4 separate regions of the Homo sapiens genome follow, and all the other regions are linked to region 4. The links come from fine-mapping of genetic effects on gene expression. A gene starts in region 4. Each other region holds a variant in brackets. All regions are shown on one strand. Distances are from middle to middle.

The links. PIP is the estimated chance that this variant, and not a neighbour inherited with it, causes the effect.
Region 1: its variant is the best candidate, but not a certain one, in a credible set for the expression of TYW5 in fibroblasts (GTEx, PIP 0.53).
Region 2: its variant is the best candidate, but not a certain one, in a credible set for the expression of TYW5 in monocytes after Pam3CSK4 (Quach 2016, PIP 0.53).
Region 3: its variant is the best candidate, but not a certain one, in a credible set for the expression of TYW5 in whole blood (INTERVAL, PIP 0.54).

Annotation. Positions count from the first base shown.
Region 1 is chr2:199,984,025-199,986,712 of GRCh38, forward strand. The region is part of intron 2 of LOC124906112 (a long non-coding RNA gene); the gene reads right to left. Among named protein-coding and RNA genes, the nearest start is that of MAIP1, 30 kb to the left of the region's middle. The variant G/A (reference allele first, on the strand shown) is at 1,655.
Region 2 is chr2:200,028,158-200,030,845 of GRCh38, forward strand. All of the region lies in intron 1 of LOC124906112 (a long non-coding RNA gene), which reads right to left. Among named protein-coding and RNA genes, the nearest start is that of MAIP1, 74 kb to the left of the region's middle. The variant A/C (reference allele first, on the strand shown) is at 1,403.
Region 3 is chr2:199,974,376-199,977,063 of GRCh38, forward strand. The region is part of intron 2 of LOC124906112 (a long non-coding RNA gene); the gene reads right to left. Among named protein-coding and RNA genes, the nearest start is that of MAIP1, 20 kb to the left of the region's middle. The variant A/G (reference allele first, on the strand shown) is at 1,514.
Region 4 is chr2:199,954,015-199,956,694 of GRCh38, forward strand. TYW5 (tRNA-yW synthesizing protein 5) reads right to left here and starts at 1,477. Exons shown (of 8, transcript NM_001039693.3): 1 at 1,379-1,477. The coding sequence starts at 1,456. It overlaps MAIP1 (matrix AAA peptidase interacting protein 1), which reads left to right and starts at 1,568. Exons shown (of 5, transcript NM_001394955.1): 1 at 1,568-2,234. The coding sequence starts at 1,785. RefSeq lists enhancers at 1,121-2,320, 1,431-1,550, 1,721-1,880, 1,901-2,000.

The DNA of each region.
Region 1 (2,688 bases), 30 kb after region 4:
TCAATTTCCCAGCAGATTATATTAGGAACATTTTTATAAGCCCAAAATGGCATTATAAAAGTGTGGTAAAGTTATTTGTTGGTGGAGAACAGAGAGGACTTGCTTTTGCCCAGGAGGACTTTCTTCCCCCGCTGCATAGGAACATTTCGAAGAAAACAGGTGTCCATCCTTATAAAATCACTCCATTCCTGTGGCTCTTGCAGGTACTGCCATATTCCACATGCCCGTTCCCTCACGTGGTGTGTAGGTCCTGGGGATGTTAAACACTTATGGACCTCAAATGGCATCAGCATGGTGCGTGGATGGCCTGTGACTTGCTATCATGAGTCTGTCAGGGATGCAATGATGTCAGCTCACTTGGCTGAGGGGCTGGCAGTTTAACAATGTCCCTATCCTTGGCTTGTCAAGAGTTATAAGCTTACACAGTGATAGGAAAGTTTTTATTTAAAAAACAGAATTTCTAACACAAGATCAATTTTTGTCTTGGCAGTCCTGATACTGTCACTTTAGGTAAAAATCACAAGTTCAAATCCCAGCTCAGTTCTCACCAGGTGGGTGTCCTCAGGCAAGGTCTTCAGCTTCCCTGGGCTCTGGGCCTTTCCACTGTGACAATACTAACCCATTTCAAAGGCTGGTGTTAGACTGAAACTATTAAAGTCAAGCAGAAAATAAAAATGGGAAAAAGCAAAGCAATAAAAAGGGTGTGTTATCCCTCACCCCCACACTCCCGTTTAATGTTAAGGGAGTCTGAATATACTCAGATGCGGCTATGACCAGAGAGCTACTTGCCAACAGCAAGAAACAGATTTTCCTAAATGATTTTTTTTAAAGCTGTTAATTCCCTTTTTTTTATTTCCCATCTAATTCCTGGCAGGAGAATAGACAGCGGGGAATAAAAACCTCTGTTGAGTTGGCAATTTTAGTACTCATATACAAGACTGTTTTATCATCAATCCTCTGAGGTCAGGGGGTCTATAAAGACATAAAGGGAGTCTTTCTTTCTAGTTGTGTTTGAGCCAGGACACTTGGGCTCTTTCCTAGTGTCTTACAGAACCAGCTTTTTACTTCTGCTGGTCCAGCCTCCTTACTTAACAGCCAGAGAAATGGAGGCCAGAGGGTTTCATAGCCCTTCAGGCTTTGTTTTCCTCATCTGTAAAATGGGGATGATGGTTCCTACCTTAGAGGATTGTTCTATATTTTAAGGGAGTAGAGCCATACCTGGCATATGATAAGCCCAATGTAAGTGAGAGGCAGCAAAGCTTGATAATAAAGAGATAATCTCTATATCAGATGGTCGGGCCCACTTCCTGGACTGCCCCTTACTATTAGTGACCTTGGATGAGTTACTTAACAGTCCTGCTCCTTGTAGAGTTGTCACAAGGATTAAATTAGTTAACATACATAAAACACTTAGTGTCTGTCACATCGTTAAGTGCTATACTGGAATTAATTCTTACTATGGTTATTTTGAAAGACATTATGTGGTTTCTATAGAATTGTCCAGTTAATTAGTGGAGAGGGCCACAAATAGAATAAAAAAAAATTGGGGTCTTGTGTGTATTCTATACCAAACCAACGTACCTAGTTATATACATAAGCGCCAGGTTCATTTCTAACTTCTTTAGGGCTACTTCTGACTCCTATGACTATGATA[G/A]AGCTAACTTGTTAATGTCATCCACCTAGATCGGTAGAGTTTGCAGCACAGCTTAATTGGGAGGTTCATCAATAAGCCACACACATGCCCGTGGGACTTAGAAGGAAGCTCAGCCATTTGTCTCCATTAGAGGGCGCCAAGGGGAGACAGCATGGTGGAAGGAAGAGAAAGAACCAGTTGCTTCCTGTTCCTGTTAGGGTTTCCCAGCCATAGCCCTTCACCCCAGCAAAGGCAGTTGATTCCAGTGTGCAGTTTTCCCAGCCTCTGCGGACACCCGCTTTTCAAAGATCAGAATCTGTCCTCTGAGATCCTAACAAGCCCAACCTTCTCCCTTTGTTCCCCAGCCTGAAGTGGTGACTACTTTCTGCAGTTATTATTTCTGCTACATTTCAGTGGCCCCTTTTTTGCCTTGTCAATTCTTTAATCTCTAGCTAAAAATTCTTTATATTGAATTCTAATTCTCACTGATAAAATAATCGAAGTGCTGTATTTCTTCTTACTGGTATACACATGAATATGCAGTTATAAAAATAATACATAAATAGAGGCCAACAGAAAGTCCTCAATGATATCACCCCCTTTTCTCGCTGCAGACTGAACGTGATCATGTAAGTTATGTCTCCTTTGAGTATCTGTCACTTAGTTACTCCACTCCCTAGAGGAAACCACAGCTATCAGCAGGTGTCTGTCCCTCTAGAACTTTAACAAATACATTTACATGGATATATATGTATATATACACACACACATATATACACACACATACATATATATATACACACACATATATATGGTAGAGTATGATCACATAATACAAACATAATGAAATAATTTAAAATAAATGTAACTATACTTTAGCACTTTAAAATATTTTTCTCTTTTCTAAGAAAACTGATTTCTTCCATTTTCACATCTTAGATTGGATCTCAGCTCTCTATTCTTGCTTCTTTTCACCACTCAAAAGGGCATGTTTTCCCTGCAATTCTTGTTTTTTTTCTCTCTCTCTCGATATAACTGATGCTAGGTACACAGTA
Region 2 (2,688 bases), 74 kb after region 4:
TTTCTGTATTTTATCCATTATTGTACCATTGCATTTGTTTGGAGCACAGTGACTTTTCAAAAATGAATTCACACTGCCATATTAGCCCAACAGACCTAGCTTTAAAGCTATATGTATATAGTATATAACTGCAGTATGATAGTTCTGCAAATGATAGAACTTTAAAAAATAATTCCAAGGCTGTATTCAGATTCAGTGCGGGGCATCTCTTCTATACAGACAGTCCTCTTATGGGGTTAACATTTTCAAATGTTTGAACTTGTTCACAGTATTTAGTAGCTTTTATACAACAGTTTAAATTATTCATGTAATTCATGTTCTCTATGGAAAAGTTAGAAATTCAAACAAGCAAAAGAAAAAGATAAAAATCAAGGATTCCAACTAATTTCTAATGGGAATTTGGAAAGTAAATTTGTCTCCTGAATCTCAAAACCATCTGCTGCTAATTAGGACTTTTAGCAGAAAGTTTATGAAGCCAGAATATGGATTTTATTAAGCAGGACTCAATTTATAATCAGCAATAAATTTGCTTCTTCTCCCTTTCTTTCTACTCTCCACCTTTCAAAAGAAGTGACTAATAGGCAGAATTTCACACATCCAAAATGAAAATTTGTGTAGACTCCAAGATAACAATGTCACAATAGAACCAAACTTCATAGCTTGGGGAAATTTGAAATAAATCAGATAAGTCAACTGAGATCTTTAAGAAGGTAATGCACCAATGTTCTAGGCCTCAGTTTTCTTGATGGTAAAGGGCAGCTGTTGGACTTAAGGAACATAATCATATTATGATACTTCTATGAGGGAGTTGCAAGTCAATATCTATAAAAAGAGGTTGAAGACTATTAAAGACTCAAATGAGGTAATCATTCCTTAATAAGTTTCTCTAAGACTGTAACATTAGGCCACTAGAAAAGAATCTGAAAAGCAACTGTCAGGTTTCCAAAATAGTGGCTAGTATTTGTGTTAGGAGCAGTCAAGCATGTGTCCAAACCCCACTGTTTTTACATGAGTGTGCAGAGATGAAAATGGCCCACAATCTTGGCTGAAGAACAAGTCATCATCCTATGATAATACAGTTGGGGTTAATGCTAATGCTGGATATATTTGGAAACTTACACATGTGCTTTAGACAAGGCTCATCTGTGGTCAAATGCTGGTCTCCAAGAAAAGCAGGTTGATGACTGGGCTCCTCCTACTCTGAATGCCTACCTGGGATGCTTCCACGTGGTTCTGTAGGCATGTCCATCTAAGTTATTATTACTGGCAAATGCTAACTTTTAAATATTCACTTATGTTTTAGGTCCAAGTCTCTTTAATTTCTAATCCTGGTGGAGTGGACAGACATGGAAAATTTACAGACTCTGTTTACCCCCATTAACTTAAGGTCCAGATAGGCAGG[A/C]CTGAAGGCTAGCTCCAGGCCCTTTTTCTCCTGGGCCCCACCCCATTGTCTATTAGACCTTCAAGAGAAGAACTTCTCAAGCAGGAGCCCCTTACTTAACCCCAAATACCCTCCAGCTGCCTAGGAAGAAAGAAAGATGGAGAGAACCAAAAAGAAGGAGTTTAATTCCATATTGCTGCTCCTGAAATTTCTATTCCTTTAGAACAGAAGACCCCTTAGGTCTTCTTGAAAACTCGATTTTGTCCTTGAGCCAAGGACAGTGGGTATGGAAGAAAGGGAGGTGATGAACATGCTCTAGAGTACATGGAGAGGGGGACCCTACTCCTCATATCCCCTTGGTCATACCTCAACATTCTGAAGTAGGATATTGGTGAGAAGCAGATGTTCATTGGGTCACTACTGGATGGGTCTAATGTGCCAATGGCTTGTGCTAAATGCCTCGCTTGTTTTTCTTCTCTTGGACTTGCTTGACTTCAGATGGAACGGCTCTATACAGCCTGATATTTTATAGTTGCCTTAGATTTTCAGCTGCTGAGAAGGTCTATGTTTTTCCAGCTTTTTAATCTCAGTGGTGGGTAAGTTCAACCTGGAGTAAAAGGTAGAGTATCTCTGCACGCTACCCAAATCAACTTTGCCAGTACTGCACTTTGTTCCTAACTTGACTCCTTGAGTCTATTTATAAATTGGTTGGAACTGATAAATAAGGAGGAATGAGTAATTAGTCTCTCCCAACTTCCAACAGTAAAGCAAAACAGTAGTGTCATTGAACTCCAAATGTGATCAACAACTCTTAAAAGAGAAAGAGAAGGGGTCAGTCCAATTACTGAGTGAAAAGAAATCTGACTGAAAAGAAAGGAGTAGTACAGTAGCAAAATTTCAAGGGCTACATGTAGATGGAATGCTGGGTCTGGGTCTATCTGGGAAGATGTTGAATGGACCACCCAGAGTCCAGTTAAATGAGTCTAAGGACATTCCTGAGAGAAAACAAATTCATTTTAGAAGAAAGAGTCAGGCTGTATACTCTAGACCAACTTACTAATTATTATTATTATTATTGAGACAGAGTCTCACTCTGTCACCCAGGTTGGAGTGCAGTGGCATGATCTTGGCTCACTGCAACCTCTGCCTCCCAAGTTTAAGCCATTCTTGCGCCTCAGCCTCCTGAGTAGCTGAGGTTACAGGGATGTGCCACCACGCCTGGCTAATTTTTGTATTTTTAGTAGAGACGGGGTTTCACCATGTTTGCCAGGCTGGTCTCAAACTCCTGGCCTCAAGTTATCCACCTC
Region 3 (2,688 bases), 20 kb after region 4:
GGACACAGGCTGATGGGAAGCCACTACCGGCTATGATAGCAAATGGAAAAGACAACTCTGAAGGGTGAACCTGGAAGTGATACAATTATTTCGCCAGAACATGGTCTCACTCAACCATAGGGACCCAGGAAGTACAAATCTGCCATGTTCCTGGAAGGCAGAGGGTAAGAAGTATTTGGTGAGATGCAATAATGATTACCACATGCAGAAAAAGCACACGGTTTTACATCACAGAGATCAAGAGAGAGACTTTCCAGGTGTTTTAGTTACACATTATTAACTGAGCATTATTGACTACTCTGCTATGGGGGTCTGGAGATGAGAATCACTCGTTCAGTGTAACAATGATTGCAGATGTCTAAACCAGTTTAAGTGAGAAAGGCTATAGAGCCCTTGAATCCATTATCTCCATTTGATGAGATCTGCTAAGGTGTGCTAACACACTCATTAGATTAATGGGGTCACCTAGGAGGAAGCAGTGGCTTACGCCTGTAATCCCAGCTACTCTGAAGGCTGAGGCAGGAGGATTGCTTGAGTGTGGGAGTTTGAGGTTAGCAGTAGTCTGGGCAACATAGTGAAACCTTGTTTCTAAAACAACAATAACAACAAAATTGGTTATGTCAATATTATTATAAATTGTTCATTATCTCAAATTTTAAGAAACTTACATAAGACCTTGTAAGAGTACTTGATATTGGCCATTTTAATTTCACAATGTGGGCAGATTATGCAAATGATTGGCATACTGTTTAGGATTACTTCTATTAAATAACTGCACGAAACAAAAACTTTTAAATATTATGGCTTAAATAATATAGAAGTAGTTGTTTCCTCTTACACTAATAGAGATTCAGAGATATGATGCTTTGGGGCTTGTATGCCAACTCCACAGAGTCCTCAGAGATCTAGGCTCCTTCTAGTCACAACTATCTTCTTTAGGGCATGATATGTGTCCTTATATTAAAAAATGGCTTGTAGAGCTCCAGCTCTCATATCCATATTCCATGGAGCAGAACGGAGGAAAGAAAAGAACAGGCAAGGGGTATATACATCAGCTGTCTTTTAAGATGCTTTCCCAGAAGGCACAAAAAACATTTCCACTTAATTTCATCAGCCAGGAATTAGTCATATGGTCACATGTAATTGGGAAGGTGAGGCTGAGAAATATAGTTGTTTAGCTGGGTACATTTTGTTGCCTCAAATAAAACTAGAGGTCCTAAAACTGAGGAGGAGGGGGAGAATGAATATTGGCTATAGGCTTCTAGCAATTTGCCCTAATTGGGTTACTTGAGTCATGAAGCCACACAGACCCTGCCAAATAGCTGACAGACTTGCTTTCCCCAGCTTCACTGACAGACCATGGTGGCTTCTAACTGCGGTCTGGAAATAGCCCTAAATATTGCCTAGCTATTTTTTCTTTCTTTGAGATAGGGTCTCACTCTGTCACCGAGGCTGGAGTACAGTGGTGCAATCACAGCTCACCAAGGCTCAGGTGATCTCCCAGGCTCAGGTG[A/G]TCCTCCCACCTCAGCCTCCTGAGTAGCTGGGACTACAGGCACACACCACCACACCTGGCTAATTGTTTGCATTTTGTTTTGTTTTGTTTTGTAGAGATGGGATTTCACCATTTTGCCCAGGCTAATCTGTAACTCCTGGACTGAAGCAATTCACCCACCTTGGCCTCCCAAAATGCTGGGATTACAGGTGTGAGCCAACATGCCTGGCCTTGCTAAGCTAATTCTTACATAAAGTTTTTAATTTATTTTTAATTTTTGTGGGTACATAGCAGGTGAATATATGGATTACATGAGACATTTTGACACAGGCATGCAATGCATAATAATCACATCAGGGTAAATGAGGTATCAATCATCTCAAGCATTTATCCTTTGTGTTACAAATAATCCAATTATACTCCTTTAGTGTTTTCAAAATGTACAATTAAATTATTTTTTACTTTAGTCATTTTGTTGTGCTAGCAAATACTAGATCTTATTCATTCTTTCTAACTATTTTTTTTGTGCCCACCAACCATCCCCACTTTCCTATCACATCCCCACTTTCCTATCTCTGCCTTCATAGACTCTGGTAACCATCCTTCTACTCTCTATCTCCATGAGTTCAATTATTTTAATTTTTAGCTCCCACAAATAAGTGAGAACATGCAAAACTTACTTCTCTGTGCCTGGCTTATTTCACTTAACATAATGACCTCTAGTTCCATCCATCTTGTTACCAATGACAGGATCTCATTCTTTTTTATGGCTGAATAGTACTCCATTGTATATATGTACCATATTTTCTTTATCTGTTCATCTGCTGGTGGATACAGGTTGCTTCCAAATCTTGGCTATTGTGAATACTGCTGCAATAAATATGGAAGGGTAGATATCTCTTTGATATACTGATTTCCTTTCTTTTGGGTATATACCTATGGGTGGGATTGCTGGATCCTATGGTAGGATTTTTAGTTTTTTGAAAAACTTCCAAACTGTTCTCCATAGTGGTTGTACTAATATACAGTCCCACCAACAGTGTATAAGGCTTCTCTTTTCTCCACATCCTTGCTAGCATTTGTTATTGCCTGACTTTTGGATAAACGCCATTTTAACTGGGGTGAGATGGTATCTAATTGTAGTTTTGATTTGCATTTCTCTGATGATTAATGATGTTGAGCACCTTTTCATATGC
Region 4 (2,680 bases):
TACAAGTCTCCAAACTAATAAAGGCTTGAATCCTCTCCCGTAGGTTGCTATCAAAAGAAAAACTTCATTCCTCCCGCATCCCCCCAACCCCGCCTTTTTTTTTTTTAAGCTAGGGTCTCACCCTCTCGCCCATGCTGGAGCAGTGGCAGGATCATGGATCACTGCAGCCTCGACCTCCCGGGCTCAAGCAGATCCTCCGACCTCAGCCTCCAGAGTAGCTGGGAATACAGGCGTGCGCCACCACGCCCGGCTAATTTTTGTATTTTTTGTACAGACGGGGATTCACCATATTGGCCAGGCTGGTCTTGAACTCCTGACCTCAAGTGATCCACCGACCTGGGCCTCCCAAAATGTTAGGATTACTGGCATGAACCACGGCGCCCAGCCCATCCGACTTTTGTAACACTCAGAATTGTAGTTTTGTTTGTTTGTTTGAGACCGAGTTTAGCTCTTGTTGCCCAGGCTGGAGTGCAGTGGCGCGATCTCGGCTCACTGCAACCTCCGCCTCCCGGGTTCAAGCGATTCTCCTGCCTCAGCCTCCCGAGTAGCTGGGATTACAGGTATGGGCCACCACCATGCCCGGCTAATTTTGTATTTTTAGTAGAGATGGGATTTCTACTGGCTGGTCTTGAACTCCTGACCTCCGGTGATCCGTCCGCCTCGGCCTCGCAAAGTGCTGGGATTACAGGCGTGAGCCACCGCGCCCGGCCCCAGAACTGTAATTCTATGACCACCCTTATAAATGTAAATATCAGGTAAGAAAATTGCTGGGTATTTTTCCTACCATAAACTGACTTACTGTAATCCTGTGGATTTTTCCTTTTAATACCTTGTTTTTCTTAGGTCTGGACTCCCTTGAAAAGCACTGCAAGTAAAAGCACTTTTTGTTTCCCTAATATTTCTCTATGAGTTTTCTTTTAAAGACCTAAGGTTCTAACTACAGGTATAAAAGACTCCAATGTCGGAACTAGAACCTAAGTAAGTTAGAATTCAAGACGAGTAGGAGTTTTCCGGGGGAATCCCATTGCTTTCCTTTTTGGCTCAGTGGAGTGAAAAGTTGTGCCTTCAAATCCATTAATTCGGAGCAGACTGACAGATGCGGAGTAAAGAGTTTAGGCAAAATACCTCTCGCACTCAGCTCTCCGCCATCATCTTGCTCCCCAGAAACATGGGACTTTCTCCGGAAATTTCAATAGAGGAGCCAGTCGGCGTCCCCCGTGCACCTTTCCCTTGGTCTAAGGGCCAACCAGTGATCTGCTGCCGTCCTGCGCCTCTTTCCCACACCCTGGGTCTCTAAAAACCAGTTCCCAGCTGTCCGAAAGGTAAAGACGTGTCTCTCGCTGGTTTCTCGAGGTTCTGCCCCGCGCGAGGGCCTCACCTGTGGGTAGAGGTGCTGCATGAACTGCTCCCGAGAAACGCCCTCCAGCCGGGGTACCGGGAGGTGCTGCCCGGCCATGGTTGCTCACGCCTGCCCTCTTCCAGGTCTTCGGAACTTCGGCTCTAAAGCGTTCCTCAGCGCCATCCGCCCGGAAACACGAGCGACAGAGAAAAGGTCCGCGAGGCCGGCAGACTCCAGAGTGGCTGGGTCCGAGCGCGGGGCGGGTTGCCGAAGGGCCTCGGCCTGGGCTGCGTGCTGGAGAGCGGGGACGGGGCCGACTCACCAGAGGCTGCAGCAACAGGTCCACTTTGCTCTCCAGTCTCTTTCTCCGACACCGCTGAGGCGGTTTCCCACCGACTTCCTTTCCATACAGCACCGGCAGGCACCGGTGTGAAGGGTCATAAAAATGGCGCTGGCCGCTCGTTTGCTACCCCAGTTCCTGCACTCTCGGTCGCTGCCCTGCGGGGCCGTCCGACTCCGGACTCCTGCTGTGGCCGAGGTGAGGCTGCCGTCGGCCACACTTTGCTACTTCTGCCGCTGTCGCCTCGGCTTGGGAGCGGCGTTATTTCCACGAAGCGCTAGGGCCTTGGCAGCCTCGGCGCTACCTGCCCAGGGCTCCCGGTGGCCAGTGCTCAGCAGCCCGGGACTCCCCGCAGCCTTCGCTTCTTTCCCTGCCTGCCCTCAGCGCAGCTACAGCACGGAGGAGAAGCCCCAGCAGCACCAGAAAACCAAGATGATCGTCCTGGGATTCTCCAACCCCATCAACTGGGTTAGGACTCGAATTAAGGCCTTCCTTATCTGGGCCTATTTCGACAAAGAGTTCAGCATCACAGAGTTCTCCGAGGGAGCGAAGCAGGTTTGTTTATTTCCCTGATTGACCTATCCGTCTCTAATGAGTTCAACTATTGCTCGCAGAAGTGCTTAGCAGTGAGTTTTCTTCACTGGGATACAAGTGATCAAACGTGATTAGTGGCCCAGACATAGAGCCTTCCAGCCATTGCTTGACTTAAAGTAAGCTTCTGGGCCGGGAATGGTGGTACACGCCTGTAGTCTCAGCTACTTGGGAGGCTGAAGGGGAGGATCGCTTGAACCCAGGAGTTGGACGTTGTAGTGAGCTGTGATCGTGCCATTGCACTCCAGCCTGGGATACAGAGCCAGGCCCTGTCTCAGAAAGAAAAAGCTATATGGCTCATCTTGTCTGAACATAATTTTCAAATTTACAAAGTGGGCAAGACAATGCCTGGCACATAGTAGGCACTCCATGAATGTTTGCTGAATACATTAATAAATGGGTAAGATTGA